3 separate regions of the Homo sapiens genome follow, and regions 2 and 3 are each linked to region 1. The links come from fine-mapping of genetic effects on gene expression. A gene starts in region 1. Each other region holds a variant in brackets. All regions are shown on one strand. Distances are from middle to middle.

Region 1 (6,232 bases):
TGTTGACAGGCTGGCTGTGGCCAAAGGACAGTGACAGGGAAGGGCCACAAAGTCCTTGAAATAATTAATTTCAGTCAAGAGGGAGTCCAGTCTGATGCCCTCAAGGATTGATTCCAGTCCAGTAGGCAGCTGATGCTGAAAGCAGCTCTGATAACTTGCTAGGCAACATTTCATAATTAGCAGCATTATTCACTGGATGTGCAGAATCAGTTTCCTGCTACAAAGAGGTAGCAAAGGATGTAACTGGCTAATTGGACATCTGCACTGTCCTTGCTGTGGTATGGAAGTTTGAGAGACTTCTCTGACCAATTACATCCTTGGACATTTCAGGGTAAATTTGGAAAAAGGCAGATGTTGTTAATCTATTCTGTGGAGTCTCCAGATAATTTTCATTTTATATAAAAAAGTTTTCAAGGATATGTATTTATCATTGTACCACAATATTTGGGAATAGGTCATACCAGATACATTGGAAAGAACCTATGTCCATCCACAGGGGAATTAGTTTTTTTTTTGTTGTTGTTTGTTTGTTTGTTTGTTTGTTTGTTTTTGAGATGGAGTCTTACTCTGTTGCCCAGGCTGGAGTGCAATGGCGCGATCTCGGCTCACTGCAACCTCTGCCTCCCGGGTTTAAGCGATTTTCCTGCCTCAGCCTCCCGAGTAGCTGGGATTGCAGGTGCCCGCCACCACGCCCAGCTAATTTTTGTATTTTTAATGGAGACGGGGTTTGACTATGTTGGCCAGGCTGGTCTCAAACTCCTGACCTCAAGTGACCCACCTGCCTTCGCCTCTCAGAGTGCTGGGATTATAGGTCTGGCCAACCCAACCTGGGCACGAATTAGTTTTTTAAAAAGTGGTATATCCAGCTGGGTGCGGTGGCCCAGGCCTATAATCCCAGCCCTCTGGGAGGCCGAGGCGAGTGGATCACGAAGTCAGGAGTTCGAGACCAACCTGGCCAACATGGTGAAACCCTGTCTCTACTAAAAATACAAAAAAATTAGCCAGGCGTGGTGGTGGGCACCTGTAATCCCAGCTACTCGGGAGGCTGAGGCAGAAGAATCGCTTGAACCTAGGAGGTGGAGGTTGCAGTGAGCCGAGATCACGCCACTGCACTCCAGCCTGGGCGACAGAGAGACTCTGTCTCAAAAAAAAAAAAAAAAGTGTTATATGCATTCAATGGAATACTGTGCACCTATCACAAAGAACAATAAAGAGCTATATTGTTGGAAGTGGAAGAATCTCCAAGAGTTATATTTGAGTATATGTGCATGTGTGTGTGTGTATATATATGTAATTACATATATATACAAATATATATTATTATTTGTATAAAAATTATTTGGTTATATATCCTTATGAGATATAGAGGTTTAGTAGTAAGGTTACCCAAATTTGATGGTGCTTGGCTGTGAGTGGTGAGATTTTAGATAATTTTTGTCTTTCTGATATCTTTATGTATTATTTAAATTATTTAAAAATTTTCAGTTATTAAAATGTTTTATCTTTATGGAATACTTAAAAAAAACTGACCAGAGAAGTTATAAGGAACAATATTATTATTATTAGGAACTCACTATATACTAGACATTCTGCTGTTTTATATGCATTATCTGATTTAATTCTCACAACCCCATGAGATTATTATCCTATTTTGTAATATTGAGCAAACTAAGCCTTCAAGTGTTTAAGCAAATTGCCCATACTCACAGGGTTAGTAAATGGTGGGGGCAGGATTAAAGGCCAGGTTTCCCAGCTGCAGTGCTACTAGGGTCTCTCTGGCCCGACCTACAGGTAAACTGGGTTGCTCTTTGGAGCTAACAGAAAGTTACCAATATCTTAAATACAATCACTTCAACCCCACCAGTCCTATCTCCGAGGCCATCTTTTCTTTTACCTTTCCAGCAGCATGCACTAAATAAAATGCCATAACTAGTATCAAAGCCACTACCAACCAAAGATGGAAAACTTTCTGTGGTAATATGTTACATTGGTTGCTGAAATGAACCATGCCTTCCAGTATTGGAAGGGACCCTGGCATAGTCCCCTCCCCTTGAATTGGGGCTAGCCCTTCTACTTGCTTTAACCAAGAATATAGCCAAGGTGCTAGTTCTGCACCTACGCTTTAAGAAGGCCTGGCAGCTTCCACTTTTGCCCTTTTGGGAGCCCCGAGCCAACATGTAAGAAGTATTCTGGCGGGGCACGATGGCTCATGCCTGTAATCTCAGTACTTTGGGAGGCCGAGGCGGGTGGATCATCTGAGGTCAGGAGTTTGAGACCAGCCTGGCCAACAGGATGAAACCCCGTCTCTACTAAAAATACAAAAAATTAGCTGGGCATGGTGGCGGGCGCCTGTAATCTCAGCTACTCAGCTACTTGGGAGGCTGAGGCAAGAAAATCGCTTGAACCCAGGAGGCAGAGGTTGCATGCAGTGAGCCGAGATGGCGCCATTGCACTCCAGCCTGGGCAATAAGAAACTCCATCTCGGGGGAAAAAAAAAATGTCATCCTACTCTGCTAGACAAATTACATGGAAAGGCCACGTGGACAGGGAGAGAACTTGGACTACAGGGAGAGAGACCCAGTTCTTTCAGCGGAACCAGCCCCCACTTGTTGCTATGACCACTGGCAAGACCAGCAGAACGGGTGGGCTAATCCCAGCCCAGATTGCAGAACTGTGAGCAAGTAAAATGGTGGTTGTTTTAAGTCTTACGTTTTGGGGCGGTTTGTTACACAACAGATTATGAAAACACCTCCTCAGCTTTCCTTGGGTGACTACTGGTACTCACTTGTGTATAAGTCTCCATTCCTTAATCCTTACTATCTCCCAATTTTATGGTAATAGTTTGCCAGAAGCGTTCACATTAACGACGAGGACGTAGGCAGGCCCCCCCTTTTTTTTTTTTTTTTGAGACAGAGTCTTGCTCTTTCGCTCAGGCTGGAGTGCAGTGGTGCGATCTTGGCTCACTGCAACCTCCGCTTCCCGGATTCAAGCGATTCTCCTGCCTCAGCCTCCCGAGTAGCTGGGATTACAGGCGCCCGCCACCACGCCCGGCTAATTTTTGTATTTTTAGTAGAGACGGGGTTTCACCATGTTGTCCAGGCTGGTCTTGAACTCCTGACCTCAGGTGATCTGCCCGCCTCAGCCTCCCAAAGTGCTGGGATTACAAGCGTGAGCCGCCGCGTCCGGCCGGATCCTCAGTTCTTTCGCTGTAAACGAGAGTACTCTTCCCCAACCCACAGGCTTATATCTCTTACAATTCAGTGAGTGAGACATCGGCTGAGGACACACCTGTTGCACAAAAAGGGCTCACTGCACGCCATCACACCCAAGTCTCGTACCCTCATCTTCATAACCTGCCCAATCCCAGTGAGTGTGAGAGGTAAGTCTGCAGCAGGGCCCGGAAAACTTGTTTCTTTTTCTTTTAAATAAGTTTTCTCGCGAATTCGAACGCATGTCCTCCTCCTGCCATACCTCAAAGGACTCCGCTCGTCACCACGCCCCCGCGCCTTCTGTTAGGAGCAGCAAACCCCAGGTGTCGCGAGGGTTTCTTCTTTCTTCAAGATCAGCCACAGGTCGCGCGAGAGGGATGTGTCCAATCACGAGGCTAGATGGCTTCACAAGATGGCGGCGCGCTGGGAGCGTATCATCTGCGTTTCTAGGAGCTTCGCTATGCGGCTGCTTTAAGATTCTAGGGTTGTACAGGCCCACGCCAGACACGACGTCTGGCAGGAACCTCGGCCTCAGAGGTGGGTCACTTATATCTCTCACGCAGATTTACTATCATGGGTCACTTAACCCGTGGATCACACGGGTTCCTCATTCTTGAGTTTTGGGCTAGTGAGGTGCCGACTTCGGGGTCTAGGAGGGGAGACCTGATGTGGCTGTGTGTGCGCACGCGGGGGTGTTGAGAGTGGATGAGTGGGAGGAGTTGGCGAATAGAATAGAGACTAGGACTGAAGTAGGAAAGACTCCCCGGTGTTTAGGAGGTTTAGAGAGATCCAAAACTGAGGCGGGAAGACAAACTGAGCTGATAAAATGAGGGCATGGAAAGAACGGCAGTGGCAGGACTAGTGGGAAACGTCGGATTTATGAGAGAAGGCGAAGAGAGAAGATGTAGATTGGTGTGGAAGTGGGAGGGATCTGTGCAGAAAGAATTTGAAGTTCTGAAATTGGAATTTAGACTGTTTTACAGGCTGTGTATCAAGAGAGTGGTAGTTGAAGAGGGTTAATGGTCAAGAGGAACCAAGGAAACAGAAGCATGGAGATGAGAAAGAAAAAAAAAAAAAGGGAAAGCCTCATTCTCAGGGTTCTACTATTAACTGTGGCTTTCTGGACTGACTCAAGTAACCGGGAAGAAAAGTTCCAGTCCATGGGCTGAGCTTTTTTTGAAACTCAGTGAGGGTGCTTTGTGTCGGTGGTCCAGACAGGGAAGAGTTCTATCGTGGTTTCAATCAACAAATACTTGAGTGCCTACTCTCTTAGGCCCTATTTTAGGCGTTGGGATATGCGGTGAACAAGACAGACAAAATATTTACCCTCTTGAAACTTACTGACGGGAGATTTTTTAAAGTAAGTAAAATATATGGAATGCCAGATGGGTAAATTCTGTGTAGAAAATTGAAGCTAGAGCCTGGGTAGCAAAGCCAGACTCCCTTTCTACAAAAAATGAAGTAAATTAACCAGGTGCAGTGCTCTGTACCTGTAGTCCCAGCTGCTTGGGAGGCTCAGGCGGGAGGATTGCTTGATCTCAGGAGTTGGAGGCTGCAGGGAGCTATGATTCCATCATTGCACTCTGGGCAACAGAATGGAAGACCTTGTCTCAACAAGAAGAAAAAAAAAAGAATTGATGCCCAGTTAAACTCTGAAGAATAGGTTATATTTAGCTAAGAACTCATTGCCTATATTGGGAGGTTAGTTAGAAAAGAAGTGGTTGTATTTACTCATTCTGTATCTGTTCTGACCAGAAAAGTTGAATAATGTAGGAAATGAATCGAATCTGCCATGTCTGTAATTTAATTTGTTTCACATATATTCAGAGTATTATGTTGTGTGTGCACTGATGTCAGCTATGTAGTCTGTAGAATTTTCCTTAATGTGTGGCAGAGCCCTAACATGCCACTGTCTCTTGAAGTCACTGTTAGGATATGGTGACTAAAGTCAGCAACAATGTATATTTCAAAATAGCTAGGAGAGGGCTTGAAATGTTACCAATACATAGATATAAAAAATACTCAAAGTGGTGAATACCCCATATACTCTGACTTGATCAGCACACATTCTATGCGTGGAACAAATACCGCATAAATGTCACATGTCCCCCATAAATTGGGAAAATATTTTCCATCAGTTTAAAGAAATTACTCTTAGTTTACTTTTTTTTGTTGCTTGCCAGAATCACAAGAAAGAACATTTTCTTTTTCTTTTTTTTTTTTGAGACAGTTTCACTGTCACCAAGGCTGGAGTGCAGTAGCACGATCTTGGCTCACTGCAACCTCCACCTCCTGGGTTCAAGTGATTCTCCTGCCTCAGCCTCCCGAGTAGCTGGGATTACAGGCACCCACCACCACGCCCAGCTAATTTTTTTTTTTTTTTTGAGACGGAGTGTTGCTCTGTCACCAGGCTGGAGTGCAGTGGCGTGATCTTGGCTCACTGCAACTTCGGCCTCCTGAATTCAAGTGATTCTCCTGCCTCAGCCTCCCAAGTAGCTGGGACTTCAGGCACATGCCACCACACCCAGCTAATTTTTGTATTTTTAGTAGAGATAGGGTTTCACTATGTTGGCCAGGATGGTCTCCATGTTGGCCAGGCTGGTCTCACAAACTCCTGACCTCAGGTGATCCTCCAGTCTTGGCCTCCGAAAGTGTTGGGATTATAGTCGTGAGCGACTGTGCCCGGCCAACACTTTAATTTTGGATATTTTCTTTTTAATAAAGTCTATTATTTGTATTTGTTTATTTTGAGACAGGGTCTCACTGTGTGGCCCAGGCTGGACTGGAACTCCTGGGCTCAAGCTATCCTTGGCATCCCTAGTAGCTAGGAACACAGGCATGCACCACCTTGCCCAGTTGATGTTTTCTTGAGAACTGGGGGCCATCCTAGTTTTATGCTCCCCTCTTTCCTGATGGTCAGTAAAGGGTATGTCAATGCTAGGAAATTAAGACAGGTATATAGTCATTTTTAGTCATAGTGTGAGGGGCAAAATGTAGTAACAGTATGCTGAAAAACTTTCAGG
Region 2 (6,232 bases), 96 kb after region 1:
CACCTGGCTGTTTTGATGTTGCTTATTTCAGAAGCAGAATTAGGTAAGCAAAACTCCCCGGTGTGACTGAGGCACACAGAAGGCACCCATACCCCCACCTCCAGCCTGTTGACAGTACCATTTTGTAGCAGTTTTACTACTGTGTGATTTTTGTTTGGACATCTGAAGTAGAGCTTGTTTTGTTTTTAAATAAGAATATTCACAAATTAAAAACCAGCGGTCCTATTTGAATCCTGGGGTTAGCTGAGTGAGCGGCTGATGATAGAAATGAGAAATAGAACAAAATAGTATGTGCCGTAGGTAGCTTAAGAAAGTCTCAGATATTTTGTTGCTGATCAAATACTGTTTTTTTGTGGCTTCACTTGTAATCCCCCCTGTACTTACCTACTCACATTGGAGAGTTCTGAGGCCGGAGTAACTGTGTCCTTGAAACACGTTTCTAATTGGAATGCCAGGGTTCAGTAGCCGTCCCCCCGGAAAGGGGTGACCTTTTGCTGTGCTTGATGTTGCATCAGCAGCCTAGGGTTCTGTTTAGACTAAAATCTTGGCCAGAGCTCCTTGCCATCTGCTAAGAAGACTGGGGCTGAGTAGTTAAGCCAGCCTTCTGAGAGGTGGCTGTTGGTCAGGACGGGAAGCTGGTGACCTTGGCATGTCTTGGCAGCAGCTAGATCAGGCCCTCGGCAGAGACACAGGAAGCGGAACTGCTGTGCCTTAACTTGGCTGTGGAGCTGGAGCTGGAGAAGGCAGCATACTGACCAGTGGCTTTTTGATTGATTGTTTGTTATGAGGTGGAGTTTTACTCTTGTTGTCTAGGCTGGAGTGCCGTGGTGCGATCTTAGCTCACTGCAACCCCCGCCTCCCGGGTTCAAGCGATTCTCCTGCCTCAGCCTCCCAAGTAGCTGGGATTACAGGCACGCGCCACCACGCCTGGCTAATTTTGTGTTTTTGGTAGAGATGGGATTTCACCATGTTGGCCAGGCTAATCTCGAACTCATGATCTCGGGTGATCCGCCCACCTTGGCCTCCCAAAGTGCTGGGATTACAGCCGTGAGCCACTACTCCCAGCCTCTGACCAGTGTTCTTAACCTGGTCCGTGGACCTCCAGAGAGTCCATGTACCTCCTAGAGTTACTTCTAAAAGCTCTGTGAGCATGTGTGTGTGTGTGTGTGTGTGTGTGTATTTTTTTTCCTGGAGAGAGGGTTCCCAGAACCCTCAGACACAGACAAAGGGGTCAATAACCCACTAAGGATTAAGAATCATTATTCTAGTCCAAGCATTCATGTGTCAGGCTGCAAAAAACAATACCCAGGGTCACACAGAGCCAAGACTCAATTCAGGACCGTGGATTCCCCTGGTCTAGAAATTTTCTGCTGTGCCAGCCCACACCACCCCACTGTCCTTACCTCGAGTGAATATTACATTTGAGTCATTTGCTGGGCCCAAACCTAGTTTCCTTGGTATAATTTTAGGATAATTGTTTAAGTGGCAACTATTCATTCAGTAAGTAGTAAGTACTTATTGTTTGCTTGTTTCATTATGAAAGAGTGGCACATGCTCATTAAAGATTTGGAAAAATGAAAGTCAAAACAACAAAATCACCCCGAGTCCCAACCTTCTGTAACATAACCACTCTTGGCATTGGCGTGTTCCTTTCTAGTCTCTCTGTAGACGGGGTGTGTGAGTGTGTGGGTTTAACTTTGGTTGTCCTCATGCTGCGTATTCAGTTTTGTATTCTGGTCCTTTGTTCATTTAACATCTTACAAGTATTTGTCCATGTTGTAACAGTAGTGTATTAGCTTACACTCCTTGCCTGTTCAAAATGTCTTTCAGGCACAGCACTGGCCTTTAAGCCTGTGTCGTAGGGATTTCCAGAGAATGCTCTGTGTATTGAAGCACAGAAGGTGTTTCTGTGTCTCAGTGTGTTTCTGTCCCTAGGTTTAAGGCTTCATGTCATGGAGGAGATTTTATAGATGTCAAGCTAATGACCTTAGAGTTTTAAAAAATCCGTGACCGTGGCCAGGCGCAGTGGCTCACGCCTGTAATCCCAGCACTGTGAGGCTGAGATGGGCGCATCGCATGAGGTCGGGAGTTTGAGACCAGCCTGGCCAACATGGCGAAACCCCGTCTCTACTCAAAATACAAAAATTAGCCGGGCATGATAGCACGTGCCTGTAATCCCAGCTACTCGGGAGGCTGAGGCAGGAGACTCGCTTGAACCTGGGAGGTGGAGGTTGCAGTGAGCCGAGAATGCCACTGCACTACAGCCTGGGCGACAAAGTGGGACTGTCTCAAAAAAAAAAAAAAAAAAAAAAAAAAAGGAACCCATGAGCAGGCCAGCTTTCAGTCTGGAGCCGAGTGCCTTCTGTGCATTTGGATGTTTCCATTTCCTTCCCTGAGAAGATTTTCTTAGGCTACCTAGTGAGAGAACATTGAAAATATTTTTAAAGGACATCTAAGCATTGTTTTGGTCATGCATATGCTTTATAATTGTGTG[T/C]TGTTTCATAGCATATACCTCTGGTACAGGTGGGCAAGTTTTTCTTTGAAGAAATGGGTTATTGACTCATATGTCATAACCTTGAGTGTTACTCTCCCGGTGTCCAGAGGTCACATTCATGTTGCGGGGTTGGTATGAAATTAAATCTTGGTGATGTGACCCTACATTCTCTTCTGGTCCCTAGAATCGGCTTCTGGTCTCCTGATAACTGAAGTGGAGACAGAAGTTGAGCCTGTTGCCCAGGCAAACTAAAGCTGCTTTTGTTCTTCGGAATCTGCTTTGCCTCCGTCAGCCTGCTTCCTTCCCCACACATGCTGGCCGCACTGTCCCCACTCCAGACCTCTGCTGTGTGTCCTGGGCAGGGCCGCGTTTTGGCAGTACCCTTTCAACTCATCCTAAGCTTCGTGTAGATTACTTTAGTATATATTTTTTATAAAACATAAAGCCTTTCCTCTCGATGGAAATCAAAGCTTACCATGTGAGCACTCGAACTTCTAAGTTGTGACAGGAATAACAAAACTGCAAGGAGTGGAAAAGATGGAAAAGCCTGTGGGAAATCCGAGGCCTTTTGAAAGAAGGGAGCTGATGACTTCACGACCAGCTCCTGGAGCCCCTCCTTTCTGCTGAAGCCGCGGCATTTCCCTCCGTGGCCACACGAGGGCACCCTTGGCCCTTTTATCAAAGCGCCTTCACTTCCCCGTGGGAATGGAGACAAGTCTGTCCACGGTGTTTTCTTGAAATACCCAGTTGCTACCCAGATTTGTATTTTTATGTAAACAAATACATTTTCACAGAAATAAAATTTGAAAAATAAAAGTAGAAAGAGAAAAAAACACTAGCCATGGTCTCTTTACCTGGTATAATCCCTTTCGACTTTTTAATGTTTTTTTAATGGTCCCAGCTGACTGTTTTTTCTGTTCTTTCCAGCTGTCCTTCTACTCTAGAATATATCCAGGTTGGGCCAGTCCTTTGGATCCAGTTTTTCTTGATATCTAGTTAATGAAGATACTGGAGGGGAAATGCTGAGTGATCTTCAAACAGTAACTTTCCAAAAGCCAGGAGTAATACCAAGATCTCCAAGAAAGCAGCTGGGTTCAGAAGGCCGGGTGCGGTGGCTCACGCCTGTCATCCCAGCACTTTGGGAGGCAGAGGCAGGCAGATCACAAGGTCAGGAGTTCAAGACCAGCCTGACCAACATGGTGAAACCCTGTTTCTACTAAAAATACAAAAATGAGCTGGGCGTGGTGGTGCATGCCTGTAATCCCAGCTACTCAGGAGGCTGAGGTAGGAGAATCGCTTGAACCCGGGAGGCAGAGGTTGCAGTGAGCCAAGATCGTGCCACTGCACTCCAGCCCAGGCAACAGAGTAAGACTCAGTCTCAAAAAAAAAAAAAAAAAAAAAAAAAAAAAGCAGCTGGGTTCAGTGTTCTGTTGTTGACCCTTGTTTGGGGTTCCTCTGGTTGGCTGGCTACCATGCATGTCGTGTGTTGCTTATATCAGAAGGTGAGGGTTCTGTGTGGTGTAGATGCTGTCGGTTAGCCGGCCTTGCTTCTCACAAGGGGCGTTTCTGGGGAGAACGCTGGGGTCTGTGTGGGCTCAAGGAGGATCCCGTCTCCCCTTATGTTTCTGGTACAGGATCAGATGTGGCCGCCCAGCAGTTGTGCACATAGGAGGAGAAGGGGCCAGGTGGGAAAAGTAAGTCAAGAGCCCTCTGGAAGAAGGAGCATTTCAAAGGTGCAGCAGGTTTATGGCGATAGAGGGGGTCCCCTCAGGAAAGGGTCACGGCCTTTTTAGGGAAGTTGGTGCACAGGAGACTTGGTTTGCTGAATGGGCACTAACCTCGGTAAAACCCAGAAGAGGCTGAATAGAATGAACTGACTCCTGCCTCCTGCGGGCAGCACTGATGTGTCGAACCTCTCTAGTAATCCCGAGTACGCGGCTCTCGGTATGAGTGCCAGCGCAGTATCAGAGGCCCGGACGGCGCCTGCCCCACTGATGATGGGCATCACACGTGCCCCGGCGTTCCTGCTCTGTTCTGTGACATTCACATGCTCTGCTGTGGCTCAGCCAAATGACTAAAACAGCGGTTGGTGTTTTAAATTCCTGGTTGGAGCAGCTAATGCTGCCTGGTGGAGGCTGTGCTTTGTACTCCACGGACTGTGTTGTGACTACAGAACGCCCTTGCCCCTCGAGGTGCCCTTTGAGATGTAGCCTGTCTGCCGGTCTCAATCCAAGCAGAAGCGTGGGTTTCCTTAGGGAAGAGGAAGATTGTGGGTGCTTCCCTCACAGGGGAACTGAAAGGAGAAGGGGTAGAGGAAAAGTACAGTCGGACTTGGCAGAACTGGCTCGCAAATGGTGCTCTGAGAGGGCCAGGCAGGTGTAAACCCAAGACTCTTTTCCACCCACCCTAGGGGAGCAAGAGGCAGGAAAGAGCACAGACTTCGACGTTCAGACCTGGGTTCCCGTCCAGTTCCATTCCTTGCACAGGGTAAGTCCGTTTACTAAGCCTTGTCTTCCTCGTGCCACAGATGAGGAATTGTCGCTTCACATTTAGAGCAGTGCTTAAGTGCAAGAAGGACTGAAATCTCAGCAGAGGGTGGAAACACTTGCTCCTCTTCCGATTCTTTGAATTGTCCATTTCCATTCAGAAAACCTTCTACCAGTAGACTCAGATGAAAAGGCTGAGACCTCACGTGTATGTCTGTAGGTGTAAAGTACCACCGTTGACAAAGAGCAAAACCCATACTTGATGTGATGGAGGGAGGACTGGGGGCCAATATTGATGGTCCACCTTCCACACACACTGTCTCATTTAGTAACCCCGTCAGCCTGTGTGACGTTCCTAGGTGGTGGCTGAAGGAAAGGGAAGCTCAGAGAGTGTCAGTGACTTGCTGTAAGGTTATCCACGGAGCTCAGTCATAGAAATGGGATTCGAACTCAGGTCCAAGAAGCCAAGACTGGGATCTTGTGCCGGAACTCAAAAGTCTATAGCAAGTGCCGCACTTCATGTGGAAATGTACTTCCAGGCTCGTCTGACCCACCTCTAGGGAGGGGGCTGCAGTGATACAACACGGGGAAGGAAAAAAGCATCTTTCACCCTCACAGTTTAGCACTTCAAGGTAATATTATTTTCCAGCCTATGATGAACGAGTGACATGTAGTCAGTGGAATTACTTAGAATTCTTCATTTATGCTACCAAATCTTCACGGAACTTTGTATTTGGCAGTAGTGCAGATAATTAAGTAGTTAGTGAAAGCGCAAAATAAAATATCTAGTGAAAGTACATGTTGGGGCCAGATGCAGTGGCTCACGCCTGTAATCCCAGCACTTTGGGAGGCCGAGGCGGGTGGATCACCTGAGGTCAGGAGTTTGAGACCAGCCTGGCCAACATGGTGAAACCCGTCTCTACTAAAAATACAAAAATTAGCCGGGCGTGGTGGCTCACACCTGTAATCCCAGCTACTCGGGAGGCTGAGGCAGGAGAATCGCTTGAACCCGGGTGGCGGAGGTTGCAGTGAGCCGAGATCGCGCCACTGTGCTCCAGCCTGGGGGACAGAATGAGAAAAAAAAATTATGCTACCAAATCTTCACAGAACTTTGTATTTGGCAGTAGTGCAGGTAATTATGTAGTTAGTGAAAGCGCAAAATAAAATGTCTAGTTAAAGTACATGTTGGACCAGAATCAATAGGAAATAACTGATTATTAGGTGAATTATTCTTTGGCAATACATAATTGTA
Region 3 (6,232 bases), 100 kb after region 1:
CCAGACCCATCCTGAACTTCCAGCATCCTCATTCCTCACCCGCCGGCCCATGGCCGTGTGAAACTCCTCTGATTGTCTGCACCTGCTTCTCCTGTTGCCTTGCTCACCATCCACCCAGCTCTCCAGAGGACAAATCTCTGTTCTTCCCCCTCCTTTCCCACCAGGTGTAAAGTCTTCCACTAAATCCCACCAATTCCACCTTAGAAACCTCTCCCCAGTCCAGCCCGATAGAGCTCTGTAATGGCCTCAGCGAGTTCCGGGGAGCTTCAGAGTAAAGAAGTAGAAAGAGTAGATTTAGGTATTTTGGGCAGAGAACAAGATGAAATCTGCTTTGTTTGGGGAGTGAACTGGAAGCTTTCAAAAGAAAGAGTAGAATGGGAAATAGATCCCACAGGCAGGGGAGTTGGTTGAGATCAAGAGATGCGAGATCCCAAAAAATGGGAGGCCCTTTCTGATACAGGACAGGCCAGCATTTTCCCCCTTTGATAATTTCCAGGTTTTGTTGTTGTTGTTGTGTTGTTTTGAGACGGGGTCTCGCTCTGTCGCCAGGCTGGAGTGCAATGGCACTATTTCGGCTCACCGCAACCTCTGTCTTCCAGGTTCAAGCGATTCTCCTGCCTCAGCCTCCCAAGTAGCTAGGACTACAGGCGCACGCCACCACACCCAGCTAATTTTTGAATTTTTGGTAGAGTCGGGGTTTTACCATGTTGGGCAGGATGGTCTCGATCTCCTGACCTCGTGATCCGCCCACCTCGGCCTCCCAAAGTGTTGGGATTACAGGCGTGAGCCACTGTGCCCAGCCAGGTTTTTTTAATTCTTAGTCCGACAATTTTATTTTATTTTATTTTATTTTATTTATTTATTTTTGAGACGAGTCTTGCTCTGTCGCACAGGCTGGAGTGCAGTGGCGCGATCTTGGCTCACTGCAAGCCCCGCCTCCCAGGTTCACGCCATTCTCCTGCCTCAGCCTCCCGAGTAGCTGGGACTACAGGCGCCCGCCACCACACCCGACTAATTTTTTGTATTTTTAGTAGAGACAGGGTTTCACCGTGTTAGCCAGGATGGTCTCGATCTCCTGACCTCATGATCCACCCTCCTCGGCCTCCCAAAGTGCTGGGATTACAGGCGTGAGCTACCGTGCCCGGCAATTTTATTTTTAAAAAGCAGGACAGGCCGGATGCAGTGGCTCATGCCTGTAATCCCAGCACTTTGGGAGGCTGAGGCGGGCGGATCGCCTGAGGTTGGGAGTTTGAGACCAGCCTGACCAACATGGAGAAACCCCATCTCTACTAAAAATACAATATTAGCCGGGCATGGTGCGTCATGCCTGTAATCTCAGCCAACTTGGGAGGCTGAGGCAGGAGACTCGCCTGAACCAAGAGGCAGAGGCTACGGTGAGCCGAGATCACGCCATTGCACTCCAGCCTGGGCAACAAGAGTGAAACTCCGTCTCAAAAAAAAAAAAAGCAGTACATTTTCATTATAAAAAATTTAGAAATGCTGGGCACTGTGGCTCACACCTTTAATCTTAGCACTTTGGGAGGCTGAGGTGGATGGATCGCTTGACCTCAGGAGTTCAAGACCAGCCTGGGTAACATGGCGAAATACCATCTCTACAAAAAATAAAAAAATTAGTCGGGTGTGGTGGTGCACGCCTGTAGTCCCAGATACTCAGGAGGCTGAGGTAGGAGGATCACTTGAGCCAGGGAGGTCAAGGCTGCAGTGAGCTGTGAGCACACCACTGCACTCCAGCCTGGGCGACAGAGTGAGACCCTGTCTGAGAAAAATTTTAGAAAATATTGAATAACACTAGAATTCTACTATTCAAATCAAATTATTTTACATTTTGTTGTCTATTTTATATGCATATTTTTTACATAGAAATTATGGATCATATGGTATCTTAGTGTTTTATAATCTTTTTCATTTAGTAATATAACTTTTTTCTTATTATAAAGTTAACATGTTTCAGAAAACTTGTACAAATAAAAATTAGTGGTAACCACACTGCCCAGCGACAAGCCCTGCTAATAGTAGCAACCCTGTTTTCCTCACATGCTGTCAGTATTGTGAGCATTGCTTCAGCTAGCCGTTACTAGTCGGAAATTTGGATTTTCTGGTTTTCACTTTCCTTTTTCTTTTCTTTTTTTTTTTTTTTTTTTTTTTTTTTTTTTTTTTTTTTTTTGAGACAGAGTCTCGCTCTGTCGCCCGGGCTGGAGTGCAGTGGCGCGATCTCGGCTCACTGCAAGCTCCGCCTCCCGGGTTCACGCCATTCTCCTGCCTCAGCCTCCCGAGTAGCTGGGACTACAGGCGCCCGCCACCACGCCCGACTAATTTTTTGTATTTTGTTTAGTAGAGACGGGGTTTCACCGTGTTAGCCAGGATGGTCTCGATCTCCTGACCTCGTGATCCGCCCGCCTCGGCCTCCCAAAGTGCTGGGATTACAGGTGTGAGCCACTGCGCTTGGCCCCATTGTGATTTTTTTTTCCCTGAGATGGAGTCTCGCTCTGT[C/T]GCCCAGGATGGAGTGCAGTGGTGTGATCTCGGCTCACTGCAACCTCCGCCTCCTGGGTTCAAGTGATTCTCCTGCCTCAGCCTCCTGAGTAGCTGGGAGTACAGGTGCATGCCACCACGCCCGGCTAATTTTTGTATTTTTAGTAGCGACGGGGTTTCACCGTGTTAGCCAGGATGGTCTCGATCTCCTGACCTCGTGATCCGCCCACCTCGGCCTCCCAAAGTGCTGGGATTACAAGCGTGAGCCACTGTGCCCGGCCTTTTTTTTTTTTTTTTTTTTTTTTTTTTTTTTTTTTGAGGCAGAGTCTTGCTCTTTCTCCCCATACCCCCCAGCCCCGCCCCAGGCTGGAGTGCGGTGGTGCAATCTCGGCTCACTGCAACCTCCGCCTCCCGGGTTCAAGCAATTCTCGTGCCTCTGCCTCCAGAGTAGCTGGGATTACACGCATGTACCACCACACCCGGGTACTTTTTTGTATTTTTAGTAGACACAGGGGTTTCACCATGTTGCCCAGGCTGGTCTCGAACTCCCAACCTCACGTGATCCGCCCGCCTCGGCCTCCCAGAGTGCTAGGATTACAGGCATGAGCCACTGTGCCCGGCCCCTTTTTCTTTTCTTTAGTGATGATTTTGTTTTATTTTTATAGCTTTTAGAGGTAATCAAATCTATCACACTGTGCTTTTATATTTTCTTTGTTTGCCTTTATGGGTAGAAACTCCTTCACCACCCTAGAGCTGAAAAATGTTTTCCTATATTTTATTATGGCTATTTTAGTTTTATTTTTTACATTTAGCATTTGAATTTACATTGCTGTATGGTGTGAAGTTTAAGGACCTGTCTTTTACCAGTGGTTCAGCATTATTTCAGACTAACTCATCAGAGAGGGCGCTGGGAAGCTCTAGCACTCCCCACTGAGGTGTCCCTGATGGCACAGGGAGTGGAGCAGGCTGGGCAGCAGTGGTGTGTCCTTTCCCAGTGGGCCCTGGGGCCTTGGGGAGAGATCTCATAGTGCACCTGGAGCTGAGCCCTGGCTCTGTGGTATCTGCTCTGGGCTGTGCAGCCAGTGACCGGCCACTGCTCTCGGCCTTGCCTCCAGAGAGAGCCTCATTCCTGGCATAGGCTGCTGATCTCTTGGGCTTTCAAGACTTGATGCTACAGCCTTGCATTTGGGTGTGAACTGGGGCTGCTGGGATATAGACCTTAGTCCTTTGTGTGGGGCACTGATCACATTGCAGCCCGTCGGTCCTGGGAGGTTTCTTCCCTATCACCATGTCCCCACCCCTGCGTGATCCAGCGGACTCTTGACTCCCATGGCAAGACTCCACCCGGCTTTACTCATAACTTCTGCCCAGTCCCACTCCCTTGACCTGAATTAGTTTTGCTGTCATAAAGCCACCTCTTTTTTCCTTTAAAGGAATCCCTGACATCGTCATCCGTCTCCTGTGCCTTTCCGCTGGGTCAGCCTCCTCCCACCAAGCTTCTGACCCACTGTCATCCGCAGCTGCCACTCTAGCTGCAGAGCTCGACTGGGCTCTGGTTTCTCAGAAGAGCTCAGAGGACCTGGCTCCTCCCTCTTTGCTTCTGAACTGCATTTCTTTCCTTATTACTCAGTGTCCACACCCACGGTGGCTGCCTGGATAAAAATCTGCCCCTTTCTCCCGTCACCTTTCATGCCAGACAAAAGCCCCAGTGAGTAATGGTGACCTACCCAGGTCCAGCTAGCAGCTCTCCATTCCTGAGTGGCCTGGGGCAGAACAGGGTCCTGCGAGCTCCTGGATCCCAAGTCTGATTCCCTTTCCCTGTCTTCCCGCTTATCTGCTAAGCTTGTTTATTGGGGACCACTAAGCAAAGTGAATGATTATTCCTGTCTTTAACGAGGAGGGGTGGAGTTCCCTCTCCATCTTCACCCACTTCTGGGAGGCTTTCAGGGACTCAACACCCCACACTGATAGCACTTCCCCAGGCCTGGCCCAGCCAGCCAAAGAGGAGGACCAGGCCACTTCTCAACCTAGCTGATGCTTGGCAGCTTTGTGACCTTGGATACACCTTCTCTTGGGAGGTCAGACCCCATGATCCCAGCTCTTCCAGCTATGACATCATGTGAGGCTGCAATTTTTTTTTTTTTTTTTTTGAGACAGTATCTTGCTATGTTGCCCAGGCTGGCCTTGAAATCCTGGGCTCAGGCGATTCTCCTGTCTCAGCCTCCCACGTAGCTGGAACTTAGGGCGTGAGCCACCGCGCCCAGCTTCTGGAAAGGACATGAATGGGGAGGTGGAACTTGATTGGACCTGTTCTGTGAGTTCAGGAGAGGTCCTCTGACAACTCACTTGGGGTGGGGAAAGGAGGTAAAGAGTCCTGTGGAAACTTTTGGCTGTGGGGACCCCATTTCACTGATGATTGAATGGGTCCACCTCTGTCAAAGGAATTCAGAGTCCCACTCATCATTCAGACTGGGGGAATCAGGCTCAGTTGACTGGCCCAGCCTTAAATCCACTGAATTTGTTTTTATCTCTACATAGAAAAACGGAATTACAGTTGCTTCTCACTGTCCAATGGGGATTGGTTCCTGGAGCCTCCCTGAATACCTGTCCATGGATGATGCTCAAATCCCTTACATGTAACCTATGCACATCCTCAGGTATCCTTTAACTCATCTCTGCGCTACTCAAATACCTCATACCATGTAAATGCTGTGTAAATAGTTCTTGTGCTGTGTTGGTTTTTAAATTTGTATTATTTTTTCTTGTATATTTTCCATTTTTTTTTCCTGAATATTTTTGATCCACGGTTAGTTGCCTCCATGGGTGCGGACCCACGGACACGGAGGCTGCACCTTCTGAAATGAGCATGGCGGCGCCCTCTGGGTCCTCGTGTCGTCCTGTCTCTGGTGCTGCATCCAGCACGGTGGCGAACAGCAGAACTAATCTTTTGCAAGTTATCACAGTGGAGTGGAGTTCCGCTCTGTTTGCTTTTGCCCCGCTCTGGCTTACCAGAGGTCCCCTGGCCTTGGCCACAGCATACCTAGCCTAGTGCTTGGCACCTCAGGCACACAATAAATATTTATGAAATGGATCTTCTCTGGTATGTCTTGAGTGTACTAGTCTTCTGTTTTTTCCTCTTCATCCTGCAGCCAGCTTCCTCCCATGGGTCTTGTTTTAATGATGGTATGTGAAAAGCTCCTTAGCTGCTTGCAAAAGATGAGACATCAGGCTTGAAGGGTTGGGATTTCCTGTGAACATCTGTACTTTCGGCTTCACGCCCTTTCCCCCATCTCATGACTCAGGCTTTGTAGGAGTCAGGGCACTGATTTTCATAGCTCTTGGAGTTGATACTTTGTTAGGTGAGTGGTGGGGGATAGGAAGACAGTTCCACTAAGGGGATGTCTCTGGCTCAGCATATTAAAAAATTGGGGAATTGGTGCTTCTTATTGTGGTTGGTGAAAAAAAGAATAAAAGATTAAAAAATTGGAGGACATAATGGAATTTGAACTGGGAGGTGGGGTGCACAAGACTCGGGGAGGAAGACTGAAAACGGAAACCCTCTCGTGAGAAACTCACAATGATGGACAGCCCAGCTTTTCTCCTGCTCCAAGGTACTAAGCACCCAGAAGCCATGAAGAAACTTAAGGAACAGCCGGGCGCGGTGGCTCACGCCTGTCATCCCAGCCCTTTGGGAGGCCAAGACAGGCAGATCACTTGAGGTCAGGAGTTTGAGACCAGCCTG

Evidence for each region. PIP is the estimated chance that this variant, and not a neighbour inherited with it, causes the effect.
Region 2: its variant is fine-mapped to the expression of METTL16 in thyroid (GTEx, PIP above 0.99). The same link has a PIP of 0.9 or more in unexposed skin and whole blood.
Region 3: its variant is fine-mapped to the expression of METTL16 in whole blood (INTERVAL, PIP above 0.99).

Annotation. Positions count from the first base shown.
Region 1 is chr17:2,509,273-2,515,504 of GRCh38, reverse strand. METTL16 (methyltransferase 16, RNA N6-adenosine) reads left to right here and starts at 3,617. Exons shown (of 10, transcript NM_024086.4): 1 at 3,617-3,746. RefSeq lists enhancers at 3,417-3,466, 3,537-3,746.
Region 2 is chr17:2,413,144-2,419,375 of GRCh38, reverse strand. It overlaps METTL16 (methyltransferase 16, RNA N6-adenosine), which reads left to right. Exons shown (of 10, transcript NM_024086.4): 10 at 1-3,327. It overlaps LOC284009 (a long non-coding RNA gene), which reads left to right and starts at 3,940. Exons shown (of 3, transcript NR_028335.1): 1 at 3,940-4,188; 2 at 4,905-4,981. The variant T/C (reference allele first, on the strand shown) is at 2,495.
Region 3 is chr17:2,404,922-2,411,153 of GRCh38, reverse strand. LOC284009 (a long non-coding RNA gene) reads left to right here. Exons shown (of 3, transcript NR_028335.1): 3 at 3,924-4,173. Among named protein-coding and RNA genes, the nearest start is that of MNT, 7.0 kb to the right of the region's middle. The variant C/T (reference allele first, on the strand shown) is at 2,512.